Regions from separate parts of the Homo sapiens genome. Here all the other regions are linked to region 4. Evidence: fine-mapped expression QTL. A gene starts in region 4. Each other region holds a variant in brackets. All regions are shown on one strand. Distances are between the middles of the regions.

Region 1 (8,102 bases), 35 kb before region 4:
CTGTAGATGCTCTTGGACAAAGCTAGTGCTCCCCTGGCATAAGGAGGAGCCCTACGACCCCATCCCCACCCCAGCTATACTCACCCTTTTTGGCTACAAGGGCCACAGTGACAGCCTCAAACAACCTCTAAAAACAACTGGAAATAACCTTTCAGTTAAAACAGATACCATCCCTGAAGAAGGGTCTAGAACTAGGTCCCTGTCTGTGTTATAGGCTCATGTCCTCCAAGGCTCCTTCAAGTCCCAGGAAGCTGATCTCTACCTGGGTGGCTTCCCTTAGGACTCCCTGTAACCTCAACTCCCCCAGGCTCAATTACAGGGACTGTTAGGCAGGACATCTGTCTCCAAGTCCAGATCCTCTCTGCCTCCAAGCCCTAACCCCTAGCCTCCCTCCCTTCCCCATCCAGCAGTGATGCTGCCTCTGTGGTGGTAGGTGGGGAGCTGCAGGGGAGGAGATAAGGCCTCTGCCTGAGTTTGGGAGACCAGGGCCCTCATAGCTTCTTTCAGAGGATGGAGTCAGAAAGGATCCACAGCTACTCTGTCACCTGCCCCCATCACTGTGTCATGCTGTCTGCCCTGTTGTCATCAGCCAACACCCAGGCATAGCCAGGAGCCCACCTGCCCTACCGCCAGGATACACCTCTGTCCTCAGAAGGTTTTCTCCTGGATGAGACTGAGCCAATGGGAATGGGACCCCTTCATCCCCCTGGCTCGCCCCAGCCCTGAGTCCCACTCTCAGCCGATCCCTGAGTAAACCCAGCACAGACTGACTTTGATCTCATTCCTGGGAATTAGCACTCTTCCCCTTCAAGACTCAAAGGACATGGTTGCTAATGGTGGCATTTCAGGCATGATGGGAAATCTTTAGGGGCAGATTGCTGCCCAGAGAGCTCAAATCGCCTTAAGCAGCATTTGCCCAGCAGACCTTTATTTAGCCTCTACTGTGTGCAGTGTGGTGTGGTGGGCAGGGCTTTGGAGTCGGACAAACCTGCTCCAGCTCTGACACTTTGGTCCAGTGGCTCAGCCTCTCAAGGCACCAGTTATCTTCACATCATCAAAGCCTCAGTTTTCCCATCTGTAAAATGGAGATGATAATATTCCTTCCTGGCTGGGCTATGGCAAGGAGGAAATGAGACCATGTATGTCATCTTCTTAATAGAGCCTGGCATGAAGCAGGTGCCTAATAAATGTTTGTCCTCAAAGAGGAGAATGGGGTGAGGAAGGCATTCCCCAGCACATGCCGCCCCTTCTCCTGCACTCAGGTGAGGAAAAGGCATTTTATTTTTGTATCCACATCATTTATTTTTCTATTGTAGTTTCTAGGCTGACTGCAAGCTAGAGAGGAGACAGGGCAAAGCTGTGAGGCCCAGGGACAGAACTCCTCTGGGTGGGTTGAAGGCCCAAGTCCCTCTCTACTCCCATTTTATAAGGGGGCAGGAAGCTGATTTGAGTTATCCTCAGACACCTGTTCTTTATGTAATTTTATTTTATTTTTTTGAGACAGAGTCTCACTCTGTCACCCAGGCTGGAGTGCAGTGGCATGATCTCAGATCACTGCAATCTCTGCCTCCTGGTTCAAGTGATTCTCCTACCTCAGCCTCCTGAGTAATGGGATTACAGACGCCTACCACCACGCCCGGAAAACTTTTGTATTTTTAGTAGAAACGGGTTTTCACCATGTTGGCCAGGCTGGTCTCAAACTCCTGGCCTCATGTGATCCACCTGCCTCAGCCTCCCAAAGTGCTGGGATTACAGGCATGAGCCACCATACCCAGCCTCAGACACCTGTTCTTAAATATTCATCCTTCTTTCTTACCTTCCTTCCTCTTCCATGCCAGGACTCAGGTATAAGGGATAGAAATTCTAGCCCTAAGGAATAAATTGACTCACATAACTGGAAAGTCTAAGGGTAAAGGCAAGTGAGGTTAGATCCAGAGGCTCAAATGATGTCAGCTCCACCTCTCAGCCCCTCCATCTGCCCCGTTGACTTCATTCTCAGCCAGGATCTTTCCTCACAAGAAGGCTCTGGCAGCCCCAGGCTCATGTCCTCCCAGCTCAGCATCCCTGACCCGGGGAGCTCCCTCGTCTCCATGATTCCAGTAAAGGAATGATTTTCTGCAGCCAGGATTGGTCTTGTGTCCATCCCTATGCTTATCACTCTTACTCTGCTTGACCAGACCTCGGTCTCATGATCATGCCTGGCACCAGCAGTGGGGTCAGTGACACCCAAGTCATGACTTCAGGAAACAGGGATGCTAGGCAGCCTTCCCTCGTTCCCTGTCCCTGGCTCTCATCTCTCTTCTCTCCACCTCTGTGCCCTCTCTCGGCCTCCCTGTCCCCAGGTCCTGACCCCAGGATCCAGTTCATCCCAGATTGCCTCTGACTATCAAGGGCACAGCTGTGTCCTGCCCAGGAATATTAGACCCTGTTATCAGTCTGGCTCTGCCATTGGATCAGAGCCCCTGGCCCTCTCTGAACCTCAGTTTCCCATGGACAGAGCACCTAGCAACCTCTGAAAGCCCTTCTGACAGTGAGGCTGACTCACAATGGCTGCAGACAAGACCAACCTGAGGATCCTGGGCAGCACAAGGCACTGTAGAGGGCACGGCTGGTGTGGTCTCGAGCCTAGACTGGGTCTCCTGGGGGCCACAGCTCATAGGTGCCAGCCTCTAGGATACCTGCATCTGCGGGTTCCTATGGAAAACACTTGTCACCTCTCCCTGCACCAGGTTAGTTTTCTTCCCATTTCAGTGATGAAGAAATTAGGCACCGGGCACAGTGGCTCCTAGTCTGTAATCCTAGCACTTTGGGAGGCCAAGGCTGGTGGGTTGCCTGAGCTCAGAAGTTCAAGACCACCCTGGGCAACATGGTGAAACCCCATCTCTACTAAAGATACAAAAACTAGCTGGGCATGGTGACACATGCCTGTAGCCCCAGCTCCTCAGGAGCCTGAGGCAGAAGAATTGCTTGAACCGGGAGGCGGAGGTTGCACTGAGCCGACATCTTGTCACTGCACTCCAGCCTGGGCGATAGAACCAGACTCTGTCTCAAAAAAAAAAAAAAAAAAGAAAAAGAAAAAGAAAAAAGAAATTAGGGCTCAGAGAGGGAAAGGGTCTCATCCAAGGCAGCACAGCCAAGCACCACCTCCAGCGCATTTGCATTTGTGAGCTGCCTTCCTCTCCCAGAGCACTCTGGGCATCTGGGCATCTACCACCAAACTCGTGTACCAAGGGCAGGAGGAACTTCCTGGAAAGGCCTCCAAGACCACTCAGTCTCTCCCACTGGCACTTGATGGATCCATCATTTCTGAGATCTCTGCGTTGTTCCCAGCAAAGGCAGTTTCCACACTGGGGAGAGAGTTCCCTGAGTACACCCCAGAGACAACCACCACAGGTGAGGTAGAAAGTGGCCATGTGCGGGGGGTGAGGGATGGTCCCCACCAGGATGGTTTGTCTCTGCGGCCGAGGGATTTGAGCCTTTTTTCTGAGTTTTCCTCCGCCTCGATCTGTGTGGGCCTTCGCCTCTCCCATTTAAAGATGCTTCCGAAAGCTGACAGCGTCGCCTTGGCAACACCAGTATCAGCATCCTTAAATGAGAAGATGAGGTGAAGTGACTTGCCATGATTTGTTCACTCTACTTCCCCTCCTTAATAAAGCAGCTCACAAAGCTGTAATAATTAATCCAACATGGCACAGGTATAAGGATTAGCAAATGATGACCACAAATAATCCATGCAATATATGTGTATTATTTTTCTTGATCTCACTTA[A/T]CCTTGAGAAAGAAAATAATTGACCAGACTTGCTTTCTGATGTGACACAAAGGACAAGCCCACATCAGCCCATAGGCTATAAAAACAACTGACAGATATAATAATGCACAACCACTCGATATCTATGTGACCTTAAACAAGTTGCACAACCTCCCTGTGCCTCAGGTTCCCCTCTGTAGCAAACTGGTAACACTGCTGCTTCATGGGGTCATTGAAGGATTGATCAATGAATTTTTCTTTGCTGTGGCATGGGCGTCTTTGGCATCTGGTGAAGCCATGGACCCCTCCTCAGAATGGTGTCTTCACATGCTTAAAATAAAATTAAATGCATTGGATTATGAATGAAACAAATTATATTAAAAACACAGTCATTGGCCGGGCGCGGTGGCTCACGCCTATAATCCCAGCAATTTAGGAGACCGAGGCGGGCGGATCACGAGGTCAGGAGATCGAGACCATCCTGGCTAACACGGTGAAACCCCGTCTCTAGTAAAAATACAAAAAAAGGTTAGCCAGGCATGGTGGCGGGCAACTGTAGTCCCAGCTACTCGGGAGGCTGAGGCAGGAGAATGGCATGAACCCAGGAGGCAGAGCTTGCAGTGAACTGAGATTGTGCCACTGCACTCCAGCCTGGGTGACAGAGCGAGACTCTGTCTCAAAAAATATATATATACTGTCATCAAAATATTTTAAGCTGGGTCCCAGTTACTTGGGAGGCTGAAGTGAGAGGATCACTTGAGCCCAGGGGGTCAAGGCCACCTTGGGCAACATAGCAAGACTTCATCACACACACACACACACACACACACACACACACACACACACACACATATACATATATATATATATACTTTTTTTTTTTTTAAAGAACACAGTTTTGATATTGTACTATATATGCTTCTTTGCTAATACATTAAATAACAAGATCAGTGGTAGGTCAAAACAAATGATGACTGTTAATATTTTGAGATATCTATAATCATTATAACAAGATACAAAAATAGCTATGATTTCTAATGGTGACAAAGTTCCAGGCACTCCTGACACTACTGTGGCTTGTGCCCTACATTCACAATTGAAAGAATGAATTTGTGAATTTGTGAATGCCCTACATTCACAAATGAAGAATGAAACAACCGAATTTAATTAAAGGTGAGTGAAGATACACTTCATCCATGGACCCCAAAAAGACACTAGGTTATGTATCCTTAAAGTAATACATATATTAATTTAGAACATATGTGCTTAGAATAGTACCTGGCATATAGCAAGTACTTGACAAACATTGTTTTTATTAATATATCTTAGGCATAATATAACTCATATATAGTTAATACTCTAAAATGATTGATTTATTAATATATAAATATGCCATTATGCCATATACATCTATCCAGATATTGCATATATGCACATATATGAACATATATGCATATTTGAAACACTGTATGGTTACACTGTACAGTATACCTACTGTGTGGTAGCCACGTACATTGACATGTGCATGAACATGTATGTGCATTTCATACTTGTTGCTACAGACGCAAACATGGAGGTAAAAATACATCTTCCATGTACACATGCAGGTCTGTGAGGCACTTGCTCATGCACACAAGTGGTCACAGGCAGAGAGCCAGATCCACTAGAGATGCTGCCACTCAACTCAGCCTGTCAACAGGCTGACTCTAGAGACCCATTTGGACTCTAGATAGAAACCCCAGAAGTCTTCAGGATCCCTGTTCAAGTCTTGTCCTTGTAGGAGGGGTCCTTTCTAGCGATGGCCAACACCCTGTCTGACCCACATCTCAGAAGAGATGCTACACAGCAAGACCCTGAGCAGTGAGGGACATGAATCATGCCCTTTCCCTTTCCCTTCCTAATATCAGTCCCCAGCTGCAGGGCTAGGTCCTTTAGTCTGAAGGGGTCCCCCAGCCACTGATGTGTTCAGGGACCAAAACTGCAGCCAGTCAGCACATGATATTCCCCTGGCCATGGTTCCTACTGCCAGGGCTGGTCATGTGACTTCAATTAGTTCACTCATACTAAAGAGGAAGACTTAGCGTTTCAGGGATACAGAAAAGTTACCTCTTCTGCTGGCTGGGCGTGGTGGCTCATGCCTGTAATCTCAGCACTTTGGGAGGCTGAGGCGGGTGGATCACCTGAGGTCAGGAGTTTGAGACCAGCCTGGTCAACACGATGAAACCCTGTCTCTACTAAAAATACAAAAATCAGCCAGGAGTGGTGGCAGGCACCCATAATCCCAGCTACTTGGGAGACTGAAGCACAAGAATTGCTTGAATACAGGAGGCAGAGGTTATAGTGAGCTGAGATCGCACCACTGCACTCCAGCCTAGAAGACAGAGCAAGACTCTGTCTAAAAAAAAAAGAAAGAAGAAAGAAAAGAAAAACAAAGATTCTCTCTTCTGTTGATGGAGAAGACACTACACAGCATGGATGCTACTCCAGTGTGGACCACCAGGAGAACCACATTTGGGACCAATCTGACAGGGAGGTGGGAGAGTGAGTGGTTGAGTGGAGGGTCAGAAGGGGCCTGGAGCTTTACTGACATCATTGAGGTCCTGAGTCCTGTCTCTAGATGATCAATTTCTTTTTCATTTAAGCCAGTGGAGTTGGTGTTCTGTTACTTGCAGCCCAGAGCATTCCGAATGATGCAATGCTTACATTTCTGTTTCCTCACTGAACTCCATCCTTACTCTGAGAGAAGAGAACCATATTATATTGCAGAAAACTGAGTCTTAGAGAGGTCAATCAATTTGCTCAAGGTCACATAGACAGTAAACAGAGAAGACAGACCTTTTATATCCAAAACACATCTACCTTCGCCTTTCCACCTTCCATCAGCTGGAAGTTATCAATAAGGGCAGCCAGTTTGGAGTTTGACTCTTGATCCTTTTGTAGCATGCATGTGTTCCTGCTCTGTGCATACAAGCTCTGTGCACAGGTGCCCAGATGCGCATGTGTGTGCTGAGGTTCAACACTGGAACTTATTCAGCTACAACAGATGTGTCCTCTGGGCCCTCGCAGCAACCTGGTATAACACACGTGCCTACAGAGGATGTGTTTGGCATCGCATTCTGCTGCTTTTCTGCTGCTTTTCTGCTTCTTCGACCACATGAATTGGCTTAGGATGCTTAATGTAAGATTTTATATTTTCTTCTTTTCCCCAATTTCTACACTCCATCCCACAAAAAAAGAGCCAAACAGTATTTTCCGTCAAACTGGAAGAAAGGGACTCTGCCAGTCAGGTAAGGGAGGGCAGTTGATAATTGGAATGGCACACCTTGGGACCCAACACAGAGCCCTTCCCTCCTGGGTCTCAGTTCCCCCATCTGGATAATGGGGGCTGGACACCCTCTGGTGACCCTTAGGTGTGGCCTTTGGGAATCTTCAAATCCTCACCATCCGAGCCCAGGCCTCAGTGATCCACATGTGCCACCTTTCCCAGGATCCCACTGCAGATCTCTCACCTTCATTACTTCTTCCTGAGACCAGCTCAAGACCAAATAATGGGAAAGGAAAACTTCTGGGAGCAGAAAAGAATCTAAAAATGCCTGCCCAGTTTGAGCAGGAATGAGCTTGTTGCTCCAACTTAATATATGGAGAGCTTTAAAAGGAGGAAGGGATCCTCTCAGACCCACTAATGTTGACTGAAATTGAGAAAGAGGAAAGCAGCCCTGACATCCAGGGGCCATCCTGGATAGTCATCAGCTAGGACTGGGTGTTGCTGCAAGTCAGCCCAACATGCACAGAGAACAGCTTATGTCCTGTCCAATGTTAATGATTCCCCAGAACACCAACATCAGATGAGGTCCTCAGTGATTGATGAATCAAGACGAAAAGTGGAACACTCTGTAATCATGTCTGAACAAAGACAAATCATGCACATTTCCAAGCCACGAAAATGACCAAACACCCCTCAGTCCCAGCTAATACAAGTGACCGCTGCTTCTTTCCCAATGACAGCATTAGCCTTGCCAGAGTCTGCCTTCTCTATAGACAAGACTTGTTAAGATCGCAACTGCATAATTACCCTCACTTCCTGAGAGCATCCAATCTGAAGAAAAACCCCACATCCTCAAACCCTATTCAAGTCACCTAACACGAGACCAATCCTATAATAAGCCTTTTCTAACACTCTCACTAAGACATTCCAAGGTTCCCCATGCTGTGCACTTTCTTGTCCCAGTGAGTAATAGAACCACTTGTTTAACTACAGGTGCATTCCTGTTGATCTTAGGCCCTTAGGAGGGCATTGACGGTAAACTACTTATTTGTGTGCATTCATGAAGTGAGCTATCAACTCCTTAGGCTT
Region 2 (8,102 bases), 490 kb after region 4:
TTTTCTTTTTTTTTTTTTTTTTTTTTTTTTTTTTTGAGACAGAGTCTTGTTCTGTCGCCCAGCTGGAGTGCAATGGTGCAAACTTGGCTCACTGCAACCTCTGCCTCCTGGGTTCAAGCAATTCTCCTGCCTCAGCCTCCTAAGTAACTGGGATTACAGGCGCCTGCCACCACGCCCGGCTCATTTTTTTTTTTTTTTTTTTTTAGAGGGAGTTTCGCTCTTTCACCCAGGCTGGAGTGCAATGGATTGATCTCAGCTCACTGCAACCTCCACCTTTTGGTTTCAAGTGATTCTCCTGCCTCAGCCTCCCGAGTAGCCGGGATTACAGGCGCCCGCCACCACACCCAGCTAATTTTTGTATTTTTAGTACAGACAGGGTTTCACTATGTTGGCCAGGCTGGTCTCCAACTCCTGACCTCGAGATCCACCAGCCTCAGCCTCCGCCTACCAAAGTGCTGGGATTACAGGCGTGAACTACCGCACCCGGTCCATTTTTGTATTTTTAGTAGAGAAAGGGTTTCGCCATGCTGACAGAGCAGGTGTTGAACTCCAGACCTCAGGTGATCTGCCCACCTCAGCCTCCCAAAGTGCTGGGATTACAGGCATGAGCCACCATTATTTACATACAATAAATATGTAAATAATTATGTAAATAATTTGTATGTAAATACAAATACAATGAAGGCTCCCTTCATTATTTAAACCCATTTGAATTGGGTTTTCTGTTGCTTGACTGTGCAAGACTCCTAACTACTACGCTATCTCTTCTTTTTTCCTCTGAGCCTCAAATTCAGACTCATTTCCTCCATCAAGGCAGAGGAATCATGGGAGGTGCTCATCTGGCCTTACCTTCCAACACAGTGAGGGCCAGGGCCGGCGGGGGCACAGGACCGGAGGTCCCTCAGGGTCGTCGCTGAGAGCAGTGCCTGCACAGTCCTCATAGAAGAGGTGCAGGTAGGAGCGGACCCCATACCACTTGCCATCCTCCACGCTGGGGCCGCGGCTGCAGCTGCAGGAACGATTGCAGCTCGGCATCATGGACCCCTGGGGAGCAGGTAAGGTGCAGCTGACGGAGGGAGGGATTAGTGGGAGCTGCTCATGGTGACCTTCATAAGCCCCCTAAATCTTTGTGCCCCACCCGCTTCTCCTCCCACTCGAGACACCCTACACGCATAGCACAGTCTGGCCTTTTGGAATCCCAGCCTGTCCTTCCCAAAGCACACTGCGAATGAGCCAATGCACTGAAGGCCTTAGCCCAGTGCCTGGCAATTGGAGGTGTCAATAAATGTGCATGTTTACTCTGGAGGCCACCCAGTACCTGGGACTGTGGGCTCTGGAGCCTGACCACTTGGACTGGAGTCGTGGACACACTGCTTCCTGGAGGCGTGACCTTAGACAAGTGCTTCCACCTTTCTGGGTCTCAGTTTCCTCATCTGTAAAACAGACCTAATAATCATACTTCTTTCATACAGTTACTGTGTCTAATGCTGAGAAATGGTAGCTGTTGTGATTAGTACTGTAATTTTTTTGCTATTACTTCCATCTTGAACTTTTTAGTCTCCATATCTGGAATGAGAGAGCCTCACCCTCCGCTCCCCTTCAGACCCCCTCCTGGGGGTAATTGTCATGGCTGACACTTGGGCTGGAGTTCCCAAGCTGCAAGGCTATAAAAAGGTCCTCCCCAGGACTGCCCCTGAAAGCCTCCAGATTCCAATGAATTTTGACTCCATTGGAAGTGAAAGTCAGGGTCCCTCAGGATTAAAGACTCTTAGGCTTAAGGGCTGTTAGATTTCCAGAGAAACCTATCAAATAACCTTTTTTTTTTTTTCCACAAAAGTGGACACGGATCTTGGGAATGGAAGGTACTTGTATATCCATATACAGGTTTGGCCCGAACCAAAGCCAGGAGGTGTTGGGGGAGGACTGGGCTTCTACCCCAGTCTCCATGATGGCCCTCAGCCTTAATTAGCAGCCTCCTGCAAAATGAAACAATGTGCTTGTTCCAAAGGGTAAGATAAAGGTCCTGACAGCTGCCCCTCACTTCCAATCAGATGTGGTCCTCAAATCCCTGCATAGAGAAACTCACCGAAACAGCACAGAGAAACACACAGACATACTCACAAAGCATACAGAGACATACCCAGATAGGTACGACACACACACACACACACACACACACACACACACACACACACACGGTTGGAGGTTCTGCTTGGAGTCACACGGCACACAAGATTGCTGTCAAGAAAGCCTGTCCATAAATAGTGGCTGTACACCCTCCTCACTTACAATTCAGGGAAAAGAAGAGCGGGGAAGGAAAGGAGGAAAAACAACAACAACAAAAGCCACGACAGAGAACGGGAAAAGGCAGAGACTGAAAGCGAAGGACCGTCGGAGGAGGAGGGCGAGAGGTCTGGAGAGGAGGGCTCGCCGGAGGAGGCGGGCGGGGCGGGCTGTGCGGAGGGTGCGGCCAGCGCGGTACCCGCCCCGGCGAGGCGCTGGGGAGGCCCGGGTGGGGAGAAGAAATGGGGCCTGGGGGACGGTAGGAGCCTCCGTGCGGAGACCACTGTTCAAGGCCACAGGTGAGGAGGTGTGGAGGGGGCTTCGGGGCTGTTGACCTGGGTCAGCTCCTCCCCTCCAATTCACCGCTTCCGCGACTCCAAATAGATGGAATCACTCAGTCCTGCTGCTACTGGAGAGGGAAGGTGACCTTGACGCTGCCTCCCGCTCGGCCTGGCCCCTCCGCCTGGCGTTTCAGGGCTGCACGGAGTAGGTCTGGCGGGCGGGGGGCGGGGCGCAGGCACCCGGGACGAGGGTTGCCATGGGAACCGCTAGGGAGGCGTCCCCAGCCCGGGAGCCGGGAGGAGCTCGGTGGGAGGGGAGCGGGAGGCGGAGGGGGCTGCGCTGTCCGACGTGGGGAGACTGCGGCGGAGGGAGGAGGCGAGGGGCGGCAGGCACGGGCGGAAGTGACGGAAGCCAGGGCCCGAAGATGGACGGAATCTGTCGCCTCTGCACAGCCTCATTCAGTTGTGTCCTTCCCAGACCCTCAGACTCGCCCACTACAGCGTCCAGCGCTGCCCGGGCGGGGGAGAAGGGGCGCCCTCCCGGGGGGGATGGGTAGGGGGTGTCGGCCGGGGAAATCAGGCCATTTCCCGCCTCCCTTCCCCACCGGCACCCGCGCCACTCTTCCTGACAGGACCACCGATGCCCTGCTCCACACCAACTGCGTCCTTTTCCCTAGAGAGAAACTGAGGCAGAGAGGGGTAGGAATGGGTTTTTGAAGTGTTGGCGGGGGTGGGGGTGTCCTTTGAAGCCTCTACCCAGCCTATCAACCCTGAGGCGTCGAGGGGCGATGGGGCTGTTTCTGTCTCCCGCCCCTGCTGCTTCCCTGGGACCCCCACCTCCCAAAGCCGAGGCTCAGGCGCAAAGGTCCCGGCCCTGGCGGGACACGGCCCGGGCTGAGGATGCGGGCAGAGCGCGGGGGTTCTCCAGGGGCTGGGGCTGGGGCCTGGCCGCGCGTGGGGCAGGGCTAAGCTCACCTCTCTGCCTGCTGTCTCCGCCGAGCAAAGGCGGGTCCGGTTCGCGCCTGCGCCGCAGTTCGGGGCGGGGGAGGGGGCGCCGGCCCGCCTCAGGGCCTGGCTCTGCAGACGGCGGCCGCCTGCAGCTCCCCCGG[C/GC]TCCTGTCCCCTTCCAGAGTTCCCTGCTCGCTCGGACACCCCAGCGCCCTCACAGAGACCCCTCGGACTCCCTGGGCCCCAGCCCCTCACGCAGCCCCTCAGACTCCTCACCGAAGCTGCCGTCACTCCCGCAGTTCCCCACCCCTCCCGTGGAAGACCCATCCCTTAACCGAGCCTTCCTCTCCTCGCTGCACCGTCAGTCCCTTTTCCAGGTCTCCATCCCCCTCATGGAGCCCCACCCCAGCGTAGAAACCGCTTCTCCTCGCCGGGCCCCCGCCCTCTTCACAGGCTCCCATCTGTCTCCGGGCTCCTACCGGGAAGTCCCCTCCCACTTGCCTTGAGAGCCGCTAATCCCTCTGGAGTCCTCACATCTCACTCAGTCCCCATCCTCTTTTCATCCTCTTTTCCTCTTTGAGTCCCTACCCATCCCTGGTACGGGATCAGCCCTTGTACCTTGAGAAGGGAGTTTGGGTGGAGGACTCGGGGTTGGGAGAGAAGTGACCTCCACTTTGGAAGGAGCTAATGACAGCCTCCCTTGTTGTTTCCTCCCCTAGCCCCAGTTCTGCCCTGGGCAATGCGTGCCCACTGCCCATCTCCCTGGAGAGCCAGCCTGTGCCAGGCAGCTGCATCTGCCTCCCACCCTGTCATGAGCTGTCAGCCTTGATTTTGTCCCACATTTGCTGTGTGATCTTGGGAAAGTCATTGTGCCCCTCCAACCGTCATCAAGCACCCTTGCACAGACATGCCTTTGTGTCTTGAGCATCTATTCTGTTTCTCCTTGTGCTAGGGGCTGGGGACACACAGAAGAATGAGCTCGGCAAGATAGGGCCACATCTTCCTTTTTAGTTTTTCTTTTTCTTTTTTTTTAATTTTTATTTTTTTGAGACAGCGTCTCACTCTGTTGTCCAGGCTGGAGTGCGGTGGCATGATCACGGCTCACTGCAGCCTCGATCTCCCAAGGCTCAGGTGATCCTCCCACCTCAGTCGCCTGAGGAGCTGGGACTACAGGCACGCACTACCATGCCTAGCTAATTTTTTGTATTTTTAATAGAGACAGGGTTTTGCCATGATGCCCAGGCTGGTCTTGAACTCCTGAGCTCAAGTGATCCACCTGCCTCGGCCTCCCAAAGTGCTGGGATTGTAAGCGTGAGCCACCGCGTCTGGCCAAGGCCACATATTTCTTGTTCGTGTTGTATCTGTGAGCCTCCCATAGTGCTTGGCACTGAGTAGGCAGCCCAGTAAATATTTACTGAAGACAGTCTAATAATAGTAGCAAACTTATTATGCTCACTATGTGCAAAGTGTTTAAGCGTTTTGTATGTTCTATTTACTTACTCATTTAAGTGTGTGTGTGTGTGTGTATGTGTGTGTGTGTGATGGGAGGAACTCTTGCAGCTCAAAACTAAAGGCCCCAAATGGTGACAGGAGATGGCATTGGAGAGGCAGGCAGAAGTGAGACCTTGTGGGGCCTCATAAGCCAAGGTAAGGAGTTTGAGCTTCAGCCCAAGGGTAGTGGGGAGCCATGGAAGGGTTATGAAGAGGGGTGGGATGTGATCTGATTTTCATTCTGAAAAGACCTCTGGCTGCTGTCAAGAGAACAGCATGTTGAGCACAAGAGTGACAGCAAGAGATCAGCAAAGAGATCAGAGATGACAGTGTCTTGGCCTGGTGCAGAGAAATGAAGACATTCAAGAGATGTTAGCCTGTAAAATGAACTACAGGAATAGCTACAGATTGGAAACAACCTGTGGTGGTTTTAAAATATAGCTACAAATTCTTTAGCACTCCTCTGTAGAGAGGTGGGATCCTTGTACCCTCTCTGAATCTTGGGTGAGCTGATGACTGCTTCAACCAATGGAGTACGGTGGAAGTAACACTCTGACTTCTAAGGTCCAGACATAAAAGTACAGGCAACTTCTGCTAGAACTCTAGCTCTTGGAGCCTGAGGCACCATGCCTACCTAGGGCTCCATGTCTGCTTAGAGGCTGCCATGCTGTCAGGATGCCAAGACCATCAGGAGAGGACACATGAAGGCACCACAGTCCCAGCTAAGCTTAGCTTTGAGTCATCCCAGTTCAAGCATAAAAGAAGTGAGTGAAGAAGAACCAGATGAGGCCAGGCACGGTGGCTCACACCTGTAATCCCAGCACTTTGGGAGGCCAAGGCGGGTGGATACCCTGAGTTCAGGAGTTCGAGACCAGCCTGGCCACATGGCAAAACCCCGTCTCTACTAAAAATACAAAAATAGCCGGGCATGGTGGCGTGCACCTGTAATCCCAGCTACTAGGGAGGATGAGGCAGGAGAATTGCTTGAACCCGGGAGGCAGAGGTTGCAGTGAGCCGACATCATGCCATTGCACTGTAGAAGGCGAAGGGGAAGGGGAAGAACAAGATGATTCCAGTGGCCAGCCATTTGAATCAGCTTCAGCCTTCAAATCTTCAAATCTTCCTAGCTGAAGACTCAAACATTGCAGAGTAGAAACAAGCTGGCCTCACTGTGTCCTGCCTGAATTCCTGACACACAGAACCCACAAGCATATTCAAGTGGTTATTGTGTTATACCACTAGGTTTGGGGGGTTTTGTTCTGTGCTAACAGATAACTGGGACACCACTTAAATATCCATCAATGGAAGACGAGTTATGTACATTATATGTCTTTGTGGAATACTATGCATCCATTAGAAAGAAGAAATTAGTCTATAATTATTTATATTAATCACACTTCAAGTGAAGAAGGATGCAGTGTTCTGAAAAGTCTTGATAGTATGCCTCCATTTGAAATTCTCAAAAAGATGGCACATATAGAGAACTTCTGGGAAAATAGACAAGAAAGAGGTAACAGTAGATGCCTTGGGGGAGGGTAACTGATGGCAAGGGTGGGAATGAAATTCACTTTTTTTTTTTTTTTTTGAGATGGAGTCTCGCTCTGTCACCAGGCTGGAGGGCAGTGGTGCGATCTCAGCTCACTGCAACCTCCGCCTCCCGGGTTCAAGCGATTCTCCTGCCTCAGCCTCCCCAGTAGCTGGGACTACAAGCACATGCCACCATGCCCAGCTAATTTTTTTTTGTATTTTTAGTACAGATGAGGTTTCACCATGTTGGCCAGGATGGTCTCTATCTCCTGACCTCATGATCTGCCTGCCTCGGCCTCCCAAAGTGCTGGGATTACAGGCATGAGCCACTGTGCCCGGCCGAAATTCACTTTTTACTATACACCTCTATGTTAGTTATCTATTGATTTTGTAAAAATTTAGGTGAGAAATGATGAAGAATTGGAGTGGGCAGGAAAAATGGAAAGGAGGGTGCAGGTGTGAAAAATGTCCATAAAGTTAAGTTGGCAGAACTTGGTTACTAAGAAGTAAGGGAAGTGACAGGGATTGAGAGAGAGAGAGAGAGACAGAGAGAGGGAGAGAGACAGAGAGGATAGAGGCTGACTTTTATGTTTATAGGTCAGGTGGGTGATGCTCCCATTAACAGAGATGTAAAATAGATGAGGGAAAGCCAGGTTGTGGAGAAGTTGATGCCCTTTGCTTTTGGCAGAGTTGAATGGCACTGTACAGGACATTCTGGCCTAGAGTCAGGGGCAAGGTCTTGGCCTTAGATACAACATAGGGAATTGTTCTCACTGGAAATGGCAGTTTTAAACTTGAACTGGCTTTAAACAAAGGGAATATAAAGGCTCACATAATTGAGAAGTCAAGGGATACTGGCTTCAGGCATGGCTGTATCCAGATGCTCAGGATCTTTCTCTTTATCTCTTGGCTCTTCCCTCATCTGTGTTGGCTTCAATGTCAGGCAGATTTTCCCTATATGGTAGCAAAATGGCCACAGACTTCAAATTTAACTGCTGGGAAAAGAATCTGTTTCTCCTTATAGTCTCAGGAAAAGCCCTGATGTTGATTCCCCTCACCCCAGTTAGATAATATGTCATTTACTGAACCCACTGGAGTGTCTCTGATTGGCTGGTTACTTGCTCACCCTTTGGGTGGCTGGCAGTGCTTAACCCAGAGAAACCTCTTGGACTGAGAACCTGCTTGAAGAGCTTCCCTAAAGGGAAATTGAAATACTGTTACTGTAAGAAAGGGCAGTGGGGCCAGGCCCAGTGGCTCATGCCTGTAATCCCAGCACTTTGGGAGGCTGAGGCAGGTGGATCACAAGGTCAGGAGTTTGAGACCAGCCTGACCAACATGGTGAAACCCTGTCTCTACTAAAAATACAAAAATCAGCCGGGTGTGGTGGCATGCACCTGTAGTCCCAGCTACTCCGGAGGCTGAGGCAGGAGAATCACTTGAAGCTGGGAGGCGGAGGTTGCAGTGAGCCAAGATCGTGCCACTGCACCGTAGCCTGGGTGATAAGAGTGAGACTCTGTCTCAAAAAAAAAAAAAAAAAAAAAAAAAAAAAAAAAGGGCAGTGGATGTAGAGCTGGCA
Region 3 (8,094 bases), 130 kb before region 4:
AGCTGGGACATAGTGGAGCCAGGATTTGAACTCAGGGACACTCCTCTTTCAGAAGGACTTGTGCTATTTGGGTTGGGAGTGCAGCTAGCAGAGATAGGAGCCTTTGGGAGTCATGTTGGGCAGGTGAGGACAGAGTGAGGTTGAGGTGGAACCAGAGAACCTAAGAGACCCCAGAGCCAGAGCAGGACTCACACAGGAGGCAGACAGTTCTTCTGCACTCATTACCACATGGCACCTCTCATGGCTCCAAGAGCTGGGGGTGAATGGCTGTTGGGGAATCATGAGGGGAAAGCTTTTCCCCTGGATAATAATAATCACAATAACTGCAAACATTCATAAAGCATCTACCATGTGCTGGCTGTGCTTAGTGCTGTGAAACATGACTCTAATCCTCGCAACAACCCCGCTGTAGCTCCCTGCATCACCCAGGTCTTGGCTGCAGTGGCTCCTCCTCAGAGAGGCTTCCCAGGAGTCCCCCTCCCCGGAGTCATTTTCCATCATATCACATGGTAGCACTTGCACCCTTCTGAAATGAGCCTTCTCATTCTCGTGTTTGCTTGTTCAGCGTCTGTTTTCCTTACTGGAGTGTGATCTCCAGTGACGGCAAGGGCTTTATCTGCCTTGTTCACAGCTGTCTCTCTAGTGCCTCTAACACAGTCTGGCACATAGTCGGTATCCAGTTAATATTTGTTGGATGAGTGGATGGATGGCTGAATGCACAGGTGGGTGAGTGGGTAGGTAGATGGGTGGATAGGAGGGTAGATGGGAGGGTAGGTGGGTGGATGAGTAGGTAGGTGGATGATTAGGTGGGTGGGTAGGTAGGTAGATAGGTGAACAGGTGGATGGATAGGTGATGGGTGGGTGCCTAGGTGGATGGATGGGTCATTGGGTATGGAGGTGGGTGAGTAGATGGGTGAATAGGTGGGTGAGTGTGTAGGTGGGTAAATAGGTGGAGGGATGGGTGGGTGACTGGATGGGTACATGAGCAGCTGGCAGGCAGGCCTAGGGAAGGGGTAGGGACACAAAGCCACTGGCCCCCACACCCCCACATCAGAGCCGGCAGGGCCACTCAGGCAGCACCCACACCCCATCTCCAGATGCTGTCCTACCTGAGGCCTGCACAGTCAGCTCTGCAGCTCAGAGTGGGAGTTGGCCTCAGTGCTCCCCAAGAGCTCAGAGTGGGCGTGGGGAGCCCCAGAGGTGGGTAGCCTGGTCTTAGCTCCTTGACTCTGCTCTGCAGAGGAAGGAGCCAGGACTGGAGCCACAGCCCTGACTCTTGGGGAGACGGGCACATAGTTGACACCCAAGGAATAAAACTGCCCTCCCCTTGCCACTAGGCTCAGAGGGTCTCTAACAGCCTCGCTGCGCACCTTCAGAAAGTGACTCATGGAGCCTCAGGTTCATCGTGTTCAAATGGACACACAGCTCCTTGCGGGGAACTGAATGGGGCCCAAGCAATGTAGGAGAATGTCCTGGGTGTGGAGACACTTTGTAAAGCAGAAACTTAGGGCTGGCCTTGCTCCCAACCATGCTGTGGTCTTCTCACCTGTCCATAACAATGACAGGCAACTGCTCAGAAGAACTCCCTGGGCAGCGGGCACAGCCAGAGTGGAGGTGGAAGGAATAAAGGAAATAAAGAAGAAAAAGAAAGGAAAGGTAGCCTGGCACAGAAAAATGATAGAAGGGTGGAGAGAAAGAGAGGACAATTGGAGAAGACGGGACTGGGTGTGGCTCAGACCCTACCTGCCTCTCTCGGCTGTTGTGAGTTTCGTATACATAAAGCACTTGGGGCTGTGGCCTGCATACAGTGAGCGCTTGCTAAATGCTGAAGTATTGTTGCCACAGTGTTATGCAGAAGTTGGTGCAGGGACACAGATGAAAGGTGTCCAGCGTCCAGCACAGAGCCTGCTCAGCTATGGAAGGAGTGTGCCGGGGAAAGCCATGGGGACTCCCATGAGGCCACCCGACATGCTGATTGGGGGGCCCCAGGTGAACCTGCAGGCCTGGCCGAGCCAGATGTCCAGCACAAGAAGGCCCTGAACAAGTTAGTGGCCCTCGCCACTCCCTGAAGACCTAGAGAGAAAGGTTCAGTTTGGGGTACCTTAGCCCACGGTCCAAACTCTCAACAGGAGGGACTGCAAGGTCAGTGCCCAAATGTTCTGAGCCCCGTTGTTGGGGAGTGGGTGGGGCACCCTTGTCTTTCAGGACTGAGGAGGCTCCCAGGACCTAACTGGCCCTGCAGCCTTGGTCACCGGGCTCTGTCCTCTCATTGCAGAGAGGAGCCCCGGCCAGAAGAAGGGCAGGAAGGACCGGCGCCCACGCAAGGACAGGAAGCTGGACCGCAGGCTGGACGTGAGGCCGCGCCAGCCCGGCCTGCAGCCCTGACCGCCGGCTCTCCCGACTCTCTGGTCCTAGTCCTCGGCCCCTGCACACCTCCTCCTGCTCCTTCTCCTCCTCTCCTCTTACTCTTTCTCCTCTGTCTTCTCCATTTGTCCTCTCTTTCTTTCCACCCTTCTATCATTTTTCTGTCAGTCTACCTTCCCTTTCTTTTTCTTTTTTATTTCCTTTATTTCTTCCACCTCCATTCTCCTCTCCTTTCTCCCTCCCTCCTTCCCTTCCTTCCTCTTCTTTCTCACTTATCTTTTATCTTTCCTTTTCTTTCTTCCTGTGTTTCTTCCTGTCCTTCACCGCATCCTTCTCTCTCTCCCTCCTCTTGTCTCCCTCTCACACACACTTTAAGAGGGACCATGAGCCTGTGCCCTCCCCTGCAGCTTTCTCTATCTACAACTTAAAGAAAGCAAACATCTTTTCCCAGGCCTTTCCCTGACCCCATCTTTGCAGAGAAAGGGTTTCCAGAGGGCAAAGCTGGGACACAGCACAGGTGAATCCTGAAGGCCCTGCTTCTGCTCTGGGGGAGGCTCCAGGACCCTGAGCTGTGAGCACCTGGTTCTCTGGACAGTCCCCAGAGGCCATTTCCACAGCCTTCAGCCACCAGCCACCCCGAGGAGCTGGCTGGACAAGGCTCCAGGGCTTCCAGAGGCCTGGCTTGGACACCTCCCCCAGCTGGCCGTGGAGGGTCACAACCTGGCCTCTGGGTGGGCAGCCAGCCCTGGAGGGCATCCTCTGCAAGCTGCCTGCCACCCTCATCGGCACTCCCCCACAGGCCTCCCTCTCATGGGTTCCATGCCCCTTTTTCCCAAGCCGGATCAGGTGAGCTGTCACTGCTGGGGGATCCACCTGCCCAGCCCAGAAGAGGCCACTGAAACGGAAAGGAAAGCTGAGATTATCCAGCAGCTCTGTTCCCCACCTCAGCGCTTCCTGCCCATGTGGGGAAACAGGTCTGAGAAGGAAGGGGCTTGCCCAGGGTCACACAGGAAGCCTTCAGGCTCTGCTTCTGCCTGATGGCTCTGCTCAGCACATTCACGGTGGAGAGGAGAATTTGGGGGTCACTTGAGGGGGGAAATGTAGGGAATTGTGGGTGGGGAGCAAGGGAAGATCCGTGCACTCGTCCACACCCACCACCACACTCGCTGACACCCACCCCCACACGCTGACACCCACCCCCACACTTGCCCACACCCATCACCGCACTCGCCCACACCCACCACCACACTGCCCCACACCCACCACCACACTCCCCCACACCCACCACCACACTCGCCCACACCCACCACCAGTGACTTGAGCATCTGTGCTTCGCTGTGACGCCCCTCGCCCTAGGCAGGAACGACGCTGGGAGGAGTCTCCAGGTCAGACCCAGCTTGGAAGCAAGTCTGTCCTCACTGCCTATCCTTCTGCCATCATAACACCCCCTTCCTGCTCTGCTCCCCGGAATCCTCAGAAACGGGATTTGTATTTGCCGTGACTGGTTGGCCTGAACACGTAGGGCTCCGTGACTGGGACAGGAATGGGCAGGAGAAGCAAGAGTCGGAGCTCCAAGGGGCCCAGGGGTGGCCTGGGGAAGGAAGATGGTCAGCAGGCTGGGGGAGAGGCTCTAGGTGATGAAATATTACATTCCCGACCCCAAGAGAGCACCCACCCTCAGACCTGCCCTCCACCTGGCAGCTGGGGAGCCCTGGCCTGAACCCCCCCCTCCCAGCAGGCCCACCCTCTCTCTGACTTCCCTGCTCTCACCTCCCCGAGAACAGCTAGAGCCCCCTCCTCCGCCTGGCCAGGCCACCAGCTTCTCTTCTGCAAACGTTTGTGCCTCTGAAATGCTCCGTTGTTATTGTTTCAAGACCCTAACTTTTTTTTAAAACTTTCTTAATAAAGGGAAAAGAAACTTGTAAATGCTTCTTGAGCATCAAGAGGGTGTTGCAAAAC[C/G]ATGATACTGCTGAGTTTGGAGTAGCAGAATTTAAAACATGTGGAGTGGTTTTCACAGGAATGCTTGGGGCTGAGAGGGGTCAGAGTGTATTGGGGATTGGGGTGGGGTTTCAGCTTGGGGGGAGCTGATAAAAGAGGAGGGGCCCTCAGCCCCTCCAGGCTACTCTCAAGAAGCAGACTCAGCCAGAGGCAGAAGAGGGTGACACCTCGATCCCCAGAACCTCGCAGTTTCACGAACCAGATGTCTCAGGGACCAGGGGTACCTAGGAGGTTGACAGTCCCACGGGGCCATCTAAACACCCTGGGCTGCTGGTGAGAGTGGCCTTGGCATTGGGAGGCACAGGTGGGAGCTCCAGCCTGTCACCAGCTATCTGATGGGGTCCAGGTCAAGTCACTTCCCCTTCCGGGGCCTCAGTTTTCCCATGTGATGAATGTGATGAAGAGGAAGCCTGGCTAAATTAAATCTATTGCCGAAATCTGGAAGACCCAACAACAGAATCCCCTGGGGAGCCTTTTAGAAATTCAGGTTTTGGGGCCCTCCCCCAGATCTATTCATTGCAAACAAGTTTAGGAGCAGGCAGTGAGAGCAAACATTCTTTCCAGGACAAGCTGAGGGGAGAGGTGGCTCTCAGATGACTTCCAGCTCAGAGGGCTGAGTCTAGATTTGCAGCTGCAATTCTGATTCTGACCTCAAGGCTCAATGATCTGATTCTACAGAGTTTAGTCTGTATGTGTGTGTGTATGTGTGTGTATCTTTTTAATTTTTTTTTTTTTTTGGCAGGGTCTTGATCTGTCACCCAGGTTGGAGTGCAGTGGTACGATCACAACTCACTGCAGCCTCAAACTCCTGGCCTCAAGCAATCCTCTTGCCTCAGCCTCCCAAGTAGCTGGGACTACAGGTGTACACCACCACACCCAGCTAATTTTTTATTTTTTGTAGAGATGGGGGTCTCAATATGTTACCCAGGCTAGTTTTGAACTCCTGGCCTCAAATGATCCTCCCACCTCAGCCTCCCAAAGTGCTGGGATTACAGGCATGAGCCACTGTACCCAGCCCCTATATAAATAAATATATATATAAATATATATATATATACACACACACACACACACACACATACATACACTATATAGTGTTTTCTGTTAAGATTCCAGTTTTAGGATGCTGAACGTTCTAATTTTCACAATTCTAAAAGACCAACATAAGGGTAGAAGTTTCCAGTACTGCAATTCCCTGGCCATGTTCTTTCTTCTTGGGGGGCCTGGTCCTCTGTCCTCAGCTGGGGGCTGTGGTGGTTTTTTAATATTTTCAAATTACAGGATGAAATTTCTTCAGGGCCTAAGCCCCTCCTATAACCTTTCCATCTCAGACGTTCCCTGCCCCCAGCTCCAATCCTTTCAAATCCCAGCCTCTCCCACATTCTCTGGAGGATTGAGGGGCCTCTCTGGGAAGGAGACTCTGCTGTCAGGTGGGCATCGCCCACTCCCTTCTTACAAGCCAAGCTTGGAGAAGTTCACAGAGAAGCTCAGAAACAGGGTGAGGTCACACAGCCAAAGAGAGGCAGTCTGGGCAGAGCCCAGGGGGAGGTTCCGCTGCTATTGGCCTTCTGGATGCTATGCCAGAGGGAGAGAACAACCCCTTGGCCAGAGCTGAGGAATCCCTGGTGGGTTCTTCCTGTCACCGCTTCCAACTGGGCCACACTAGGGCCCTCTCTGCAGTTCCCCCCACCCGCTCACTCCATCCTCATCCTCACCACAGCCCTGCATGTCATTCCCACATGCTGCCACCGGATGACGGCAGTCAACCAGGAACAGGTCGCAGCCAGGCTTGTCAAGGAGCGCATTTCTGAAACGGGGTCGTGTTGCGGTTCTCTCCTAGCAGGACTGGAGCAGGGTGGAGGGTAGCCGAGGGCAAGGGACAGGCTGCCTCAGACCGAAGGACTGACTGCCTCAGGCTGAAGGACAACAGTTGCAATGGGGACTTCAGCTGAATGGCCTTCTCAGCTGTGCAGAGAGTGTCAGACTCAGAGGTCCCTGTCCCAGGTCCTTCCTTGCACAGAAGGGAAATCTGACTCAGAGCATGACCTCCTGCCCAGACATCTGGCCCAGGTGACCTATGGGGATTACACCTCTCCATTTTCGCTTGGAAGAAAATTTCTTTTTTCTGTCTTTGTTTGTTTGTTTTTTAAGATGGGTAATAGCTCTATCGCCCAGACTGGAGGTCGGTGACATGATCCCGGCTCACTGCAGCCTCGACCTGCAGGGATCAGTTGATCCTCCCACCTCAGCCTCCCAAGTAACTGGGACTACAGATGCACACCACAATACCCAGCTATGTTTAAAATTATCTGTAGAGAAAGAGTCTTGCTATGTTGCCCAGACTGGTCTTGAACTCCTGGGCTCAAGCGATCCTCCTGCCTCAGTCTCCCAAAGTACTGGGATGACAGGTGTGAGCGACCGCACCCAGCCCAGAGGAAAATTTCAAGCCATCGTATGTGGACCTTCTAACTCAGGAAATGTGCATTCTTATAATACAAATAATAGTAATGATGAGGATGAGGATGATGACGTCATCTTATATTTATGGAGCACCTATTCTGCACCAAACATAGCTAAGCATTTCAGGTGCAATATCTAATTTCCTTTGCTTTTCTCTCTTCAGCATAAATCATAACTACCATTTTTCTACCAATTCCTCTTACTAACCTCGCATTTCCCACCTATCTCCTGCCACCTTCACAGCTACGTTGCCAGCTAACTTCTAGGAGGAAAAACTGAGGCTCAAGTTCAAGTCATTCAAAATCCATCAGTCTCACCCATTCATTCATTCCGTGAATATGCATAAAGTGCCTACTGTGTGCCTGGTACTGTCCTGGGTGCTGGTGATAAAGACCCTGCCTTGTCCTCCAAGCGTTCAGTCTGCAGACAGTCAATTCCAACAATGTGATAAGACCTTCCATGAGGACAGGATCTAGCATATCCTGTCTAAGGCATACAGGGGTTAGGGAGCTCCTCCTCCAGGACCAGATAGCCAAGCTGAGAATTAAAGAGTGCGAGGTGTTAATGAGATGGGTGGGGAGGGGGAGGAAACAGCACTTGCAAAATCCTGGAGAAGCTATTCATGGGGGCGCCAGCCCTGGAATTGCTAAGCCTCCTAAGCTGTCAGATCCTGGAACATGTGGACTCAGCCCTGGGGTCTGATGGCTCCCACTCAGCCCCCCATGACTCCCACCCTCACCCATAGCCATAGCCAACCTACCATCCACAAGGTGGAATGGATCCTCCAGCCAGACTTGTAGCTGAAGAAGCCTTCTCGCAAGTGGGTCTTCTAGTCCTTGCTGTTTTACCCGCTGCCCCTCCTTACCCCCCACTGCAGAACCCTCCCAGCCACAGAGTCCTCCCATCGAAGGCCCAGCAGAGAGAAGCTGTCCACCTTATCCTGCCTGAACTCCTGATCCACAGAACCCAGGAACATGATAAAATGGTTGTTTGTTTATGCCTCTGAGGTTGAGGAGGTTGTTTCATGCAATGGACAGCTGGAATGGGGTTTATGGTGGCACCTCTCTCCTAGAGTGGGAGGCAGGGAAGTGAGGTGGGTAAGAGCAGACAGAAGATCACGAATCCCGTCGCCGCCAGTGACGCCAGCTATGAGCCTTTAGGCAAGATCCTGTATCTCTCCCTGTGCCTCAGTTTTCTCATCTTCTTTTTTTTTTTTTTTTTTTTTTTGAGACGGAATCTCGCTCTGTCGCCCAGGCTGGAGTGCAGTGGCGC
Region 4 (8,102 bases):
GCCCAGCTCCTGAGGGAGGGCTTCATCAGCCCAGAAAGCTGATCCACTATTCTCAGAGGTTACAAATCTAAGAGAAGCACAGGTAATGGTTAAGAATGCAGAGTCATGACTGGGTGCAGTGGCTCAAGCCTGTAATCCCAGCACTTTGGAGGCTGAGGCAGGTGGTTCACAAGGTCAGGAGTTCAAGACCAGACTGGCCAAGATGATGAAACCCCGTCTCTACTAAAAATATAAAAATTAGCCCAGCATGGTGGCGGGGGCCTATAATCCCAGCTACTCAGGAGGCTGAAGCAGGAGAATCATTTGAACCCGGGACACAGAGGTTGCAGTGAGCCGAGATGGCGCCACTGCACTCCAGCCTGGGCGACAGAGCGAAACTCTTGTCTCAAAAAAAAAAAAAAAAAAAAAAAACAATGCAGAGTCACTTGAACAGACATTTCTCCAAAGATAACAAATGGCCAACAGGCACAGGAAAAGATGCTCAACACCATTAGTCATTAGGGAAATGTAAATTAAAACCACAATGAGACACCACATCACACCCCTGAAGATGGCCATTACCAAAAAAAAAATACAAACAGAAAATAACAAGTGTTGGTGAAGATGTTGAGAAATTAGCACTTTGTGCACTGCTGATGGACACATAAAATGGTGCAGTCACTGTGAAACACAGTAAAGTAGTTCCTCAAAAAATTAAACAGAATTGCCATAGGATCACCCAGCAATTCCACTTCTGAGTGTATACCCAAAACAATTAAAAACAGGAACTCAAACAGATATTTGTACATTCATGCTCAAAGCAGCATTAGTCACAACAGCCAAAAGCAATCCAAGTGTCCATCAAGGAATGAATGGATAAACAGAATGTGGCATATACATAGAATATTAGAATAGATTATTCCGCCATAAAAAAGAAAATTCTAACACATACAACAACATGGGTGAAACTTAAAGGCATTATGCTAAGTGAAATAAGCCAGACACAACAAGACAAATACTGTTATGATTCCATTTATAATACCTAGAGGTACCCAAAGTAGTCAAATTCACTCAAACAGAAAGTAGAATGGTGATTGCCAGGCACTGGGGGGAGAGGCAATGGGGAATGTACTTAATGCCACTGAACTGTATACTTAAAAGTGGTTACAATGGTAAATTTTATTTTATATACATTTTAATTCATTCACTGCCCCACCCCACCCCCCCCCCCAAAAAATGTAAAATTTAGAGCCAGACTCTCTGGGTTCAAACTCCACCTCTAGGTTATCTTATGCAAATTATTAAACCTCTCTTGTGCTCAGTTTCCCCTCTGCAAGATGGAAATAAGAACAGCAGTAATTACCTTATATCACAGAGTTGAGGGAATTAAATGAGTTCATACTTGTAAAGTACTTAGAACATAGTAAATGCTCAAGAGGTGTTAGTGATTTTTATTCTTTGGTGAGGGGGTGGGAGGTGTGGTTTCCAAAGGTTATAATTTTCATGACATTCTACACCCAACCCGCCCCCTTCCTCCCACCTGCTTCTTTCTTTCCCTTCAGCAGAAGCCTGGCCTAGATTTGGGGAGGCCCTTGCCTGCCCCAGAGGAGATTGGGAAGGCTCCAGGCAGTGGCAAGGGGCCAGCCAGCAGGGCAGCCCCAGCTCAATTTCAGCCCAGCTGTCCAGGTCAGGGACACCCAGCTGGGCCACCTCCAGAGCCACACCAGGCCCTGAGCTATTTCTGGAGGCCTCCCAGACGCTGGTGCCCTGGCCTGCCCAGGAGTCAGCCTTGCTCAGGGTGGCCTTGCACTAACATTAGGAAGGGAGAAGGGAGTAGGCTGTGGAATGGGTGTGGATGTGGACATCTAGGCCCACTGATACCAAGTTGATCTTCTAGGCCTAGGTCTGCACTTGAGGTTGCAAAATGGGGATGAAGGATTTTGCAGTGAGGACAGAATGGAAGATAACACATGCAAGGTCTTGGGGAAGGGCCTGGCACGCAGGATTAGAAAGGGGAGGGGGAGGCAGATCCACAGCCAAGCCCACTTCCTATCCTAGACTGCCCTCTGCCCAGGCCTGAGTGCACCATCATGACTTCTTAGCTCAGCCCAGAGACTGAAGAAACTTACTCAATGTCACAGAGCAACTCAGGGACAGGGCAGTGGTTTCATGATTTATAAATATGCATATATATACACATATATACATATATACACACATACATATATATACATATATGTGTGTGTGTATATATGTGTGTGTGTATATATATATATAGAGAGAGAGAGAGAGAGAGAGAGAGAGAGAGAGAGATGGGAGGACTGCACTTCATGAAGGCTGTGTGAGTTAACCTCCTGCCTGCAGAACACACAAATGGTCCATGAACGTTAGTTTCAGTCTTGATTACTGAGGTTTTGGGCATCCCTAAATTTTGCACTGGCTCAATTGCCTCAGCCCCTGCCTTGCATCACAGTGGGAGAAGATGATACATTTGCTAATAAGTAAAAAAACCAAAACATGCAAGAACCAGAGCAGGGCTTATGAAGTCAATAAATAATATTTGTTGAAAGAATAAAAGAAAGCCTTGTTTTCTTTCTGAGTCCTCGGAGATCCTGTCCCCCAAAGCCAGGGGCAGGCTCCAGAGGAGAGAGGATATGTAACTCCCTTATGAAGAGATTGAAGACTCTCAAAATGCATGATTCTGTGTGTCAAGGATTCTAAGATTGAAGCCAGAGGGACTAGGAGCTAACCACTGCATTGTCTGACTGTGACTTCGAAAAGGGGCTTAACTTCTTAGAACCTCCGTTTCCCCACCTACAAAAGGAGACTGACAATAGCAACCTAGGGGGCAGGGGGTGTCCCCAGGAGACACAGCAGGGTCTGGCCTAGGTCAGCTGCTCCACCTGGGGGGATTCCGGCCCCACTCCCAATTCCAAAGTCTCTGGTGACTAGTGGCTTTGGTTTAGGGACTGGCTCTATTCCCTTCCCCAAACTGGGGATGATTCCCAAGAGGCCAGCAGCGGCTCTGGGGGCTGGAGAATCTGCTGCCCCTGCATCCAGCCCAGAAATGTCAGTCCCGTCCGATCCCCAAAGAGTGGTCCTCTGTCCCCGTAGACAGAAAGGCGCCAAATGAGCCGAGTCCAACCCCGGACTGCGGAGAAGGAAAGACAGACGCCCAAAGGGGGTATCCCGAGGACAGTGTGGGGCGCGGGGATATGTGATCCAGCCAGGGGTCTACAGGTCCCTGCCGATAAAACGCTGGGAAAATGACTACCAGTTGCCCGTCTGGGCCTCTCAAGGCAAGTCCAGATGTGACTAGACTAGGGGGCTGCGAGGTGGGGCAGAAAGACTTGAACTGGATTCTCCGCCAGAGCTCGCCGGGCCGGGACACTTGCCTCTCTGAGCCTCAGAGTCCTCATCTGTGAAATGACACGCAGGTACGACGCGGGGAGAAAGCAGACAGCAGACGCTCGGGGAACGGGGCCCCCAGACCCGGGGTCGCACCCGGACCCACCCGCGCCCTCACCTGGAGCCCGCGCTAGGCGTGTCCCGGCTCCTCTCGCGCAGGCTTTGGAGAGGCTGACAGCTCGGACCCGGGCCGGTAGTGGCCGCTCCCAACGACGCCCAGGAGGCCCCAGCCCCGCGTGGGCACCTTTGGGGTCCCCTTTGGAGCTGCCCTCCGCGGTCGAGCTGAGCGGGTGGCCCTCACTGTCGAAGGCCCCCACCGCAGGGAAAGTCCCTGGGGCGCCGTGGAAGGGGAAGTGAGCACGCCGCCCCCCTTCACACCAGAATGGTTCGCCCCGGACTTCCTGATTGGTTCCTCGCTTCCGTTCGAACGGCGCGCCGCCAGGGTTGCCAGGCGACCGCTTAGCTTCCCCCGCCCGAAGGAGAGGCGCTGCTCAGCAGCTCCGCCCGCTCCTCCCAGCCGGCCCCACCTTCTTCCTGCCGCCGCTTCAGCCCCGGCGCCTGGTTCTTTCCCTTCCTCCTCCTCCCTCCCGCGGCCAGCTGGGACTTCCTCTAGGACCCCAGCTGGAAGAGCTCCAGTTAGAGGGCCCTGGCTGGTTCCTAGTCCTGACTTTGACGCTAACTCCCTATGTGACCCGGTGCAAGCCCCTTCCTTTCTCTGTTCTCCTAACTGCATGATGATGAGTGAGTTAATTTTAAAATGTGCATACCCAGCAGTCCCGAAATTTACAAAGGAAATGACCAAAGATATGAGCAAAGATTAATATTGCTCAGCCTTATTCATCATAGCAAAATAATGGAAACAACTTCAATGCCTCTTGAAAGGGATTGGTTATATAATTCCATCCTGTGGAGGAGCTAACTTAATTGAGCTTTTTGCATGCCGGGTAGCTTTACAGAACAAGTCTTGTCAAGGCTTATGACATAACCCTCTAAAAGTACTTTTAATTATTAACACTTTATTTATTTCTTTATCTTTTTCTTTTCTTTTTTTTTTTTTTTTTTTGAGATGGAGTCTCACTCTGTCGCCCAGGCTGGAGTGCAGTGGCAGGATCTCAGCTCACAGCAGCCTCAATCTCCTGGGGTCAAGCAATCTTCCCACCTCAGCCTCCCAAGTAGCTGGGACTACAGGTGTGCACCACCACACCCGGTATTTTCTGTATTTTTTGTAGGGATGGGGTTTTGCCATGTTGCCCAGACTGATCTTAAACTCCTGAGCTCTAGCAATTCTACCAACTCAGCCTCCCAAAGTACTAGGATTACAGGCATGAGCCACGCCACCTAGCCTAATTTTTCCCACTTTCTGATGAGGAATATTATGCAGCCATTAAAAGTGAAGTAGCTACCAGGAGCAGTGGCTCACACCTGTAATCCCAGCACTTTGGGAGGCTGAGGCGACCAGATCACCTGAAGTCAGGAGTTCAAGACCAGCCTGGCCAACGTGGTGAAACCTCGTCTCTACTAAAAATACAAAAATTAGCCAGGCGTGGTGCCACATGCCTGTAATCCCAGCTACTCAGGAGGCTGAGGCAGGAGAATAGATTGAACCTGGGATGTGGGGGATGCAGTAAGCTGAGATCATGCCACTGCACCCCAACCTGGGCAAGAGATCATCTCAAAAAGATAAAAATAAAAGTGAAGTAGCTAGAAGATATTTAAAGATAGGGGGAAATGCTAAGTATTAAACATTGGTTTATTTATGTTTTTTAGAGACAGGGTCTAGCTCTGTTGCCCAGGGTGGAGTGCAGTGGTGCAATCATAGCTCACTGTAACCTAGGTTGAAGCAATCCTCACACCTCAGCCTCCAGAGTAACTAAGACTACAGGCCCGCATCACCATGTCAAGCTACGGGTCTCGCTATGTTGCCCCAGGCCAGTCTAGAACTCCTGGCCTCAAGTGATCCTCCTGCTTTGGCCTCCTGAATTTCTAGGATTACAGGCATAAGCCAATGCACCCCTCCCAAATTTTTTTGAAGTACAGTATGCTTCAAAACACTATGTACAGCATAAATATGTATTAAATACATATGTATATGTGTATAATCATCTATAATCACAGCAGTTAATTTCTTCTTTGTGTTTTTGTGAATTTTCCAAATTTCCAATACTTGAACATGTCAAAAAAGTATATTTTTAGGGGGATTAGAATGAATTAACTCTAAGGGCCTTTAAGGTGAGGAAATTTTATAGCAGTCAGTCTGAATTGCTCAATTTGGAACCAGCTTCTCTGTTTCATTCCAGCTGGTGTCTTTTATTCTTTGTTTGGATTGCCAATAATTGAGAACTTACTGCGTAAACCCCTGGGTGGGCAGGGGAGGGAGCTAATAATATATCAATAGCTAATAATGATTGTACACTCTGGCATGGACACCAACCAAATCAGAGCCAACCACTGTCATAAACAGGGAGTCTGCTGTATCCGTGAGGACCAGCTAAATATCAATCCTGGCCCTGTGCCCTCTGCTACATTGTGTTAGGGCTTTATACACATCATCTCATTGGACTTCATGACTATCTAAGGCGAGAGATCCTGCTATTATTCCCATTATATAGATGAGAAAACTAAGGTCGGTCTGGATCCAGAATGAATTCTCTGATCCACTCTGTTACATTCCCTTGTAAACATGTGAGAACTGTTTGGGAGTAACAGTGAGGTAAGGCAAGGGGGATCCTGTGATCCTATAAGACACAAGAGAAGATTGAGCAGGTAGCTTCAGCCTAGGGAGACTTCTTTTTTTTTTTTTTTTTTTTTTTTTGAGACAGAGTTTCACTCTTATCGCCCAGGCTGGAATGCAATGGCACGATCTCAGCTCCCTGCAACCTCTGCCTCCCAAGTTCAAGTGATTTTCCTGTCTTAGCCTCCTGAGTAGCTGGGATTACAGGTGCCCGCCACCATACCCGCTAATTTTTTGTATTTTTAGTAGAGACAGGGTTTCAGTATGTTGGTCAGGCTGGTCTTGAACTCCTGACCTCAGGCGATCCACCCACCTCGGCCTCCCAAAGTGCTGGGATTACAGGCGTGAGCCACCACGTCCAGCCCTAGGGAGACCTCTTTAAGAAAAAATTACAGATATGAAATTAAGTAATAAAGTGAAGATTTGGTTAGAAAGAGACAAGAAACCACAATAAGGTGGCTCATGCCTGTAATCCCACCACTTTGGGAGGTCGAGGTGGAAGGAGTGCCTGAGCCCAGGGGCTTCAGACCAGCCTGGGCAACAAAGCGAGATCCCCAGCTCTACAAAAAAATTTTAAAAAGAAATTAGCTGGCCAGGCATGGTGGCTCATACCTGTAATCCTAGCACTTTGGGAGGCCGAGGCTGGTGGATCACCTGAGCTCAGGAGTTTGAGACCAATCTAGACAACATGGCAGAACCTCATCTCTACTAAAAATACAAAAAATTAGCTGGACGTGGTAGTGGGCACCTGTAATCCCAGCTACTTGGGAGGCTCAGCCAGGAGAATCACTTGAATCTGGGAGGCAGAGGTTGCAGTGAGTCAAGATTGTGCCACTGCACTCCAAGCTGGACGACAGTGAGACTCCGTCTCAAAAAAAAAAAAAAAAAAGGAAAAAAGAAATTAGTCAGGCATGGTGGCACGTGCCTATAGTCCCAGCTACTCAGGAGGCTGAGAGGGAGGATTGCTTGAGACCAGGAGGTTGAGGCTGCAGTAAGCCATGATTTCACCACTGCATTCCAGCCTAGATGACAGAGCAAGACCTTGTCTCCAAAAAAAAAAAAAAAAAAAAGAGAAATTGCACAAACGTTACAAAACGCAGAAAAATAACATTCTTTTTATTAGCTGCCTGTCTCAAACACATCTGTAATACTTTCCATAAACTAGCTGCTGGCTCCGTGTATACATTCAAACCTCTCCTTCACAGTCTTGTGGAACTGAGTGCTGTAGGACCATTCATATATCTTGAGATATAACCTCTGATCCTGAATCTTGATGCCACGACAAGTTGAGTCAGCTCAGTATGCTCGGTATGGATATATTCCTGGAAGCCATTTCAATACCAGGTCAGTTAGTAATAATTTTTCACAAAAGTGACTGGAAACAATATAAATATATCCCACTAAACCCAAAGTAAATGTTAAGGTCCTTTTAGCAAGATGCCCAAACTGCTCACACCAACCCCAACATCATCTGATGCAAAGGGAAGTTGGAATGAAAGGAGATAGTGGTTTTAACAGAATGAGGTTAAGATGCCTTACATTGGTAAATTTTACAGAAGCACATGGCCATGTGAACACATCACTAGGGTGCTTCCCAGACCTCAACTTCCCTGTTATTAACCAGGAATGACAACAATGGTGTTGACCAAATTCTTCTCTGAGATATGTAACTTTAATCAGGGTTGGGAGATATTTGAGATACCTGGATAAAGGCCCTGCTCACTGACCCTTGCGTCTTCAAGTTTGCCTCTGCCATGCACAGCCGAGAGCTTAAAATTAGACAAAACAAAAACCGAGAGGCCCATTCCTAGATTGAGAAAGTGAGGCAGAGGGCAGAAGGAACTTGTCAGGATCCCAAATTAGGCCATGTAAAGAGAGATCATCTGGGCGCACTCAGATTCTAGAATTGTGGGCATCTTTATGTGCCAACAGCATATTGGTCTTCTATTTTCAGGACTATATTAAGCACCTGGTGCCAATTCAG

Which allele goes with the higher level. Alleles are on the strand shown, and positions count from the first base shown. SD is a standard deviation of normalised expression in the study named. Not every link is listed here.
In carriers of allele C in region 3, the expression in thyroid of the gene that starts at base 3,742 in region 4 tends to be higher than with G alone (moderate effect, 0.47 SD a copy in GTEx).

What was found.
Region 1: its variant is fine-mapped to the expression of FAM110A in whole blood (INTERVAL, PIP above 0.99).
Region 2: its variant is fine-mapped to the expression of FAM110A in monocytes after Pam3CSK4 (Quach 2016, PIP 0.95).
Region 3: its variant is fine-mapped to the expression of FAM110A in thyroid (GTEx, PIP above 0.99).

Annotation. Positions count from the first base shown.
Region 1 is chr20:863,922-872,023 of GRCh38, reverse strand. It overlaps ANGPT4 (angiopoietin 4), which reads left to right. Exons shown (of 9, transcript NM_015985.4): 9 at 1-2,124. LOC124904854 (a long non-coding RNA gene) reads right to left here and starts at 1,072. Exons shown (of 3, transcript XR_007067485.1): 1 at 989-1,072. The variant A/T (reference allele first, on the strand shown) is at 3,770.
Region 2 is chr20:342,580-350,681 of GRCh38, reverse strand. It overlaps NRSN2 (neurensin 2), which reads right to left and starts at 3,571. Exons shown (of 5, transcript NM_001323682.2): 1 at 3,540-3,571; 2 at 3,170-3,248; 3 at 1,319-1,433; 4 at 850-1,044. The coding sequence starts at 1,038. LOC101929937 (serine/arginine repetitive matrix protein 2-like) reads left to right here and starts at 1,992. Exons shown (of 4, transcript XM_047440635.1): 1 at 1,992-2,009; 2 at 2,297-2,582; 3 at 2,668-3,263; 4 at 3,691-4,416. The coding sequence starts at 1,992. The coding sequence ends at 4,014. RefSeq lists silencers at 1,143-1,437, 2,464-2,553, 2,734-3,263, 3,284-3,703 and enhancers at 2,510-3,272, 3,273-4,035, 4,036-4,799. The variant C/GC (reference allele first, on the strand shown) is at 3,674.
Region 3 is chr20:954,648-962,741 of GRCh38, reverse strand. RSPO4 (R-spondin 4) reads left to right here. Exons shown (of 5, transcript NM_001029871.4): 5 at 2,276-4,290. The coding sequence ends at 2,385. Among named protein-coding and RNA genes, the nearest start is that of ANGPT4, 42 kb to the right of the region's middle. The variant C/G (reference allele first, on the strand shown) is at 4,324.
Region 4 is chr20:829,355-837,456 of GRCh38, reverse strand. FAM110A (family with sequence similarity 110 member A) reads right to left here and starts at 3,742. Exons shown (of 2, transcript NM_001042353.3): 1 at 3,506-3,742. RefSeq lists an enhancer at 1,726-1,825, a silencer at 3,342-3,491 and a cis regulatory region at 7,961-8,102.